Linked DNA regions of Homo sapiens. The protein of the gene in region 1 interacts with the protein of each later gene in a pairwise test. Each region holds a gene or a part of one and is shown on either strand. Other genes may lie near its edges.

What was found.
Region 2: the proteins of INSC (region 1) and USP54 interact in binary tests that used the Homo sapiens proteins (3 or more experiments, as listed by UniProt).

The regions. Positions count from the first base shown.
Region 1 is NC_000011.10:15,236,923-15,240,422, reverse strand, and holds part of INSC (protein inscuteable homolog), read right to left. Parts: intron 1,505-3,500; coding exon 1,349-1,504; intron 1-1,348. UniProt on the Homo sapiens protein: May function as an adapter linking the Par3 complex to the GPSM1/GPSM2 complex. Involved in spindle orientation during mitosis. May regulate cell proliferation and differentiation in the developing nervous system.
Region 2 is NC_000010.11:73,514,843-73,518,342, reverse strand, and holds part of USP54 (ubiquitin carboxyl-terminal hydrolase 54), read left to right. Parts: intron 1-595; coding exon 596-1,968; intron 1,969-3,500.

The DNA.
Region 1 (3,500 bases):
CAGGCCCAGGACAGGGCCCAGCCAGGCCTGACCCAGAGGTTCTGGGCCTCCCTTGCACACCCAATCTGCCAGAGAAGGGGACTGAACCCACCTCGGGGAGTCTGTGGTGGAAACTTACTACTCCCTCAGTGGTGAACAGACCCGGGTCAGGGTCAGGCCAAGCTGAAGAGTCCAAGCCAAACCCACAGATGCGGGTTAACATTTGAATCTTTACCAGACAAAATTCCTAACTGTGTCTTTTTTTTTCTCAAGTGCCAATTTCAATCAGAAAATATACTGTGGCTAAAATAAAATAAAACTACAGACTCTACTAATATTTCCTAGGGCTTTACTGAGGAGAGTTAAGTGAATGACTTAGCTTTGCAATGCAGACTGACTTCTTTTTACACTTTAAGAAAAAAAAGACACCCTCATTATACGATAGTAGTAGAAGGTATGCAAATGCAGTCTGTGTGTCCATCTTCTGTAAGGTCTTGAAGGAACAGGAACCCTCTGCTGCCCCAGGCTGTCCCTCTGGGTACCTGGATGATTGGTGACACTGCCATGCCTTTTCTCATGCTTCTTCCCGAAGAGCCCTTTCTCAGCCTTCACATAGGAGCAACTTACCCATCAAACCACAGCAGAGGACTCACCCCCTTGTTAAACCATTCTTTGACTCACCCAGATAAACATGAGCTACTTCTTGTGCATGCCAAATGCACCATGGACATGCTTTGGGTGTCACTCCCATGATACTGAAGTGAGAATATCTCTTTTTTTATCTGTCACCTCCATGAGGCTGTGAGCCCCTGGGGTCAGGACAATGTCATATCCAGTGTTACATGCCCAGCGCTCAGAACAGAGCTTAGCATAGGGTGGGTGCTCTGACAATATTTGTTGGGTAAATAAGTGACTGAATGAATGAGCATGTTAATGGGTGAATTAATGAATGAGTTAATAGTGAATAATGAAGTCATGAATGGGTTAATGAATAAATGAACTAAAGGATAAATTAATGAGTAAATGAACAAGTGAGTAGACAAGTAAATAAATGAGTATATGAATAACTGAGCAAGTGAATAAATGAATGAGTGAATGAAAGAATGGGGTTCTTATTAACAGTCTGCAGGTGAGTCACTGTTCTGGCCAACTTTCACCTCTCTAGGTCCTTTCTCCCTCTTGCTTCGGCCCCAAGTTACAAACTAGACCAGCGGCTGCACCCCTGAGCCTCCACCCCTGAGCCCCCAGAGACAGGGCTTATGCCAGCCAGCTCTTGCCCTGTGTCCACTGTTGCCACTGTGAAATCAGAGCTGCTCCCACCCCCAATACCCCCACTCCACTCCAGCCACAGCCAGAAAGCACCACTCACAGCTGAGCCGCACGGCCTCCCGTGCCACATCTGGGTCTCGGCTGAGACGAGCCAGGGTCACTGCAGCTTTCTGCTGGACTCGCTCACAGGCTGCCACTTCAGCAGGAGTCCCAGACCTTGGTTTTTCAGACAGCATGCCCATGATAAGCTGGACCCCTAGGCAGGAAGCAAGGAACAGTTGGTACCTACCCCAGCATGGAGCCTTCCCCATGGGGCCAGCTGGACAGATGGCTGCAGGGTGCAAGCAAAGGCTGTCAGGATGACTTCAGGGGTCTCACCCACAGGGAGGAAGCTGGACAAGGCTGTTCCTCCATGCCTTCTTCTCCTGAGGGTGTCTCCATGTACCAAGTCACTATACTTGGGAGGAGCATCTGAAGACATCTTTATTTTTTAATGCTATTATTGAGCTTTTACTACACACTCAGCACTGTGCTAAATGCATAGTAAATGCATAATGCCCTAAAACCTTCCAGTAGCCTCATGTATTAGGTACCATTACAATTCCATTTTGAAGCCCAGAAAGAAGTGAAGTATCTTGCCCAGTGTCACATGGTTAGCAGTTGGGGGAGCCGCTATTAAAATTCAGATGTAGCATCACATTTAGGATTAAGAAAACGAAAGAAACTCAGATAACTGGTTTCTCTACATCACCTCTTCACTTCTGATACTGGCTGCTTCTGAGACAGGTCCAGTGGTGATGAATCCCCCAGGTAAGAGGTGATCCAAACCTAAGCTGGATATTGACTAGATCAAATGTTTTAGAGTAAATTCAACCTGGAAAAGGGTGCAGTAGTTAGACTGAGAGTTTTCAACCGAATAATCTCTGCTGAGAAGCCTCCTACCTCTCCCTGAAACCAGATTTGTCTTCTGATTGTTCTAGAAACCATACCCATGTCCGCTCATACCTCCTTGCCTTTACCCACTCTTTCTTTCTACAAGGGATGCCATTTTCCCTCTTGACGCTCCATCTAAAAAACTCCACCCTGCAGGTTGTAGCAAAAGTTCATCTTCTGTGTGAGCTGTTGCCCAACTGCCCATCCCACACTCCCCTCTTCTGCACCCAGTGGCTCCTGCCAGCTTAGAACTTAAGCCAGACATGACCCAAGGATATAGTTTTGCTTTGTTTTGTTGCCCCATATAGTGTCTACAATTTTTTAGATTTTTGATAGTGTGCTAACTGGAGGATTTCTATAAAAATCTAGATTTCTGACTTCTGAAACTGCCTCCTGAATTTTAACCCTAGGACCTCATTTCTGCACAACAAATTGTTAAAGCTTATTATGAGTTCCTTCTTTAAAAGAGATTGATCCTGTCTCTGGTGAGCTCGCCTCGTCCATTTACATTACCTGTCTGAGTTTTGTAGGCATCTAAGTTTGCAACCTGTTATTTAGACCATGGACTCTCAAAGCCCAGTCTGCACAACAAGATTTGCCCTGTCCAGACCTTAGAGGCCTGTCTTCCAGTAGACACCAGTTGCATTGACACCATTGTTGATTCCTCAAATCCTGCCCTGCTTTGGAAAATAGCTCCTTCATTAAACTCTCTTCAGGTAAACCCCGTGAGACTGCCACTGTTTCCTGAAAGAGCAGGGGGGCTTAGCATAGTGCTCATTCTGTGCCAGACAATCTTCTAACGTGCTTCATGTTAATCCTCACAACATCCTTATGAGGTAGGGATTATTCTCATTTTGCAGATGAAAAAACAGAGAGGTCATATGGTTAGTAAACAACAGTGCCAGGATTCAAACCCACAGAGTATGGTTCCAGTTTTCAACCTCAACCACCATGCCAACCTCCCTCTGTTGCATTATTCTATTGTAGATGTTATATTTTTATCATATGTCACTTTTGTTAAGTTGTGCTCTCTGTCTAGACTGTGAGATCCTCTAGGACAAAGACAGGGATTTAGTTATCTCTGTTCTCATTGTCTAGCACAATGCCAGGCACATATTAGGTCTCAATAACTGTTTACTGATTCAGTCAGTCAATAGCACTTTGTGAACCATAAAACCCTCTACAGATGCCAGATATTCCAATCTCAAATTCACAGGCCTATGGAGACCCACTCCCACTGAACACTTCAACGTAAGGCTCTATAAGTACCGAAAGAACGGAGCACAGATGCAGTAGCTCAGCTTCATGGCCTCAGCTGG
Region 2 (3,500 bases), on another chromosome or scaffold:
GGAAACATCTCAGTGACTAATAGAACAAAATCCAGATTATAAAAACATATTTGAAATGGTTAATTTCTGTGTATTCCCATGAGCCCAAATCACCCTGTATTTTGTAAATGTGGCCTCATAGTTCCTTTGGCCGGGCTGCCTCTCAGGACCCCAGGTAGGACTTGCCTCCCTGTATAGCATCCTGGATTTTTGCTGTTTGGTATGAGTGATTTTCAGGCTTTGCTTACCTTCCATGTCATCTGCATGTGAGACTAGCTGATTTTGTTTCCTAATTTGCAAGTAGAATGTGATTGGAATGCGACTTCACAGGTAGTGAAGAATATTGGCAAGGGCTCCACTTAATGTTACTGTGCAACTTTGGTGAGGGTGTTTAATAAAGAGGATTAACGTTACCTATTTACCTGAGTGTGAGCTGACCATGTGCCTTTTCTTTTGTGATCCTCTGAACTACTGACTCTACTTGTGCTTGTCTTTCTGTTTATTTTTACCATTCCCTGTGTGAATAGCTAGAAATGGGAATGGAATGTTGAGTTCTTTCTGTAAGTGTTCCTGTCAGTCAAGGCAGCTTATGACTAGCTCTCTCCATTTGTTTCAGTGAACAGCCTATCCCGCTCCAAGTATTGTTAAGCCAAGAGGCCCAACTGGAATCCGGCATGGATACAGAGTTTGGGGCCAGTTCTTTCTTCCATTCACCTGCTTCCTGCCATGAGTCACACTCATCACTATCTCCAGAGTCATCTGCCCCACAGCACAGCTCCCCCAGTAGATCTGCCTTGAAGCTTCTGACTTCGGTTGAAGTAGACAACATTGAACCCTCTGCATTCCACAGGCAAGGTTTACCTAAAGCACCAGGGTGGACTGAGAAGAATTCTCATCATAGTTGGGAGCCATTGGATGCCCCAGAGGGTAAGCTGCAAGGCTCTAGGTGTGACAACAGCAGTTGCAGCAAGCTCCCTCCACAAGAAGGAAGAGGCATTGCTCAAGAACAGCTGTTCCAAGAAAAGAAGGATCCTGCTAACCCCTCCCCGGTGATGCCTGGAATAGCCACCTCTGAGAGGGGTGATGAACACAGCCTAGGCTGTAGTCCTTCAAATTCATCAGCTCAGCCCAGCCTTCCCCTGTATAGAACCTGCCACCCCATAATGCCTGTTGCTTCTTCATTTGTGCTTCACTGTCCTGATCCTGTGCAGAAAACTAACCAATGCCTCCAAGGCCAAAGCCTCAAAACTTCATTGACTTTAAAAGTGGACAGAGGCAGTGAGGAGACCTATAGGCCAGAGTTTCCCAGCACAAAGGGGCTTGTCCGTTCTCTGGCTGAGCAGTTCCAGAGGATGCAGGGTGTCTCCATGAGGGATAGTACAGGTTTCAAGGATAGAAGTTTGTCAGGTAGTCTAAGGAAGAACTCTTCCCCTTCTGATTCTAAGCCTCCTTTCTCACAGGGTCAAGAGAAAGGCCACTGGCCATGGGCAAAGCAACAATCCTCTCTGGAGGGTGGGGATAGACCACTTTCCTGGGAAGAGTCCACTGAACATTCTTCTCTTGCCTTAAACTCTGGGCTGCCTAATGGTGAAACTTCTAGCGGAGGACAGCCCAGGTTGGCAGAGCCAGACATATACCAAGAGAAGCTGTCCCAAGTGAGAGATGTTAGGTCTAAGGATCTGGGCAGCAGTACTGACTTGGGGACTTCCTTGCCTTTGGATTCCTGGGTGAATATCACAAGGTTCTGTGATTCTCAGCTTAAGCATGGGGCACCTAGGCCAGGAATGAAGTCCTCCCCTCATGATTCCCATACGTGTGTAACCTATCCAGAGAGAAATCACATCCTTTTGCATCCACATTGGAACCAAGACACAGAGCAGGAGACCTCAGAATTGGAGTCTCTGTATCAGGCCAGTCTTCAGGCTTCTCAAGCTGGCTGTTCTGGATGGGGGCAGCAGGATACCGCCTGGCACCCACTTAGCCAAACAGGTAAGAATGCAACCAGGGGTTGGGGGGAGGGGGGAGGATCATATAAAAGCTGAAAGCAGGGAAAGATCAGAAGGGAGTGTTCTATACAGATACTATCCCCAGCTTAGTAGGAGGTAATAGAACTTTTGACTTTACTCAGAAAGCCTTCAGGACAAGACCTAGACATTTTTCTGGCTAGAGTGGAGGAAGGGGCAGAATTACCACTCATAGGCAACTTCCCTCCTTCTAAAGTAAGAGATTACTAAGTATTTGCCCATGGCTTCTCCAGTATGCTGTGCTAAAGAATGGTTCAGGGCCGGGCACGGTGGCTCACTCCTGTAATCCCAGCACTTTGGGAGGTCGAGGCGGGCAGATCACAAGGTCAGGAGATCGAGACCATCCTGGCCAACATAGTGAAACCCCTTCTCTACTAAAAATACAGAAAATTAGCCGGGCGTGGTGGTACTTGCCTGTAGTCCCAGCTACTCGGGAGGCTGAGGCAGGGAAATCACTTGAATTCGGGAGGCAGAGGTTACAGTGAGCTGAGATCGCACCACTGCACTCCAACCTGGGTAACAGAATGAGACTCCGTTTCAAAAAAAAAAAAAAAAAAAGAATGGTTCATAGGTGTTTGAGAGTGATTCAGCATGACAGCATGAAATGGAGGGAGGCTGAGAGGAAAATATATTCTTCTATGGCTTAGAATCCCAAGATTCAGCCTCCAGGTCTGCTTTGCAGTAGGATGTCCATATGCTCAGTGTGGACATTTCCAGATCATACTGAACCAGCAATATCAAGACCTTCCTGATCCCTTTAGGAAAAGTCAAGTTTGGTGTTCAAGGAATTTTTAATGTACTATATGCCTACAGGGTAGCCACTGACTGAGATAATACAGAGTGAAGAGTAGAGCCTGCACCTGAAGTGCACATCATAGTCAGTTCTGGAAATTGAAGACATGAAGAATGTTTGTAACTTACATTGATGCACTTAACTCCAAAGCCTGAACTATTTTCCTGATTCCAACATTAACTCTCAGTATAAATTTGGACAAGTCACTTAATATCCCAGGGCCAAGGTTTTACCTGTAAAATGAGAGAACTGGCTTTTTTTTTAAAAAAAGATATGTTCTAACTCTAAAATGGCATGTATGATTCTGTGAAATTGAACTTGGAGAACTTTTCCTTAGCTTGGCTGTGACAGTTTCTGTAATGGTGCAGGTTCCTTGCATGCTGACAACCAACATATAATTACAGTTGAGTAAGTGTTTATTGAGTACTTACTGTGTTCTCCAGAGCCTTTGAGGGGAATACCACATAAATATAAGATTTGATTTTTTATTCATTTTTTTTTTTTTCTGAGAAGAGTTGCACTCCTGTTGCCCAGGCTGGAGTGCAATGGCGTGATCTCAGCTCACTGCAACCTCCGCCTCCCGGGTTCAAGTGATTCTCCTGCCTCAGCCTCCCAAGTAGCTGAGATTACAGGCGTCCACCACCACACCTGGCTAACTCTTGTATTTTTAGTAGAGACAGGGTTTCACCACGTTGGCCAGGCTG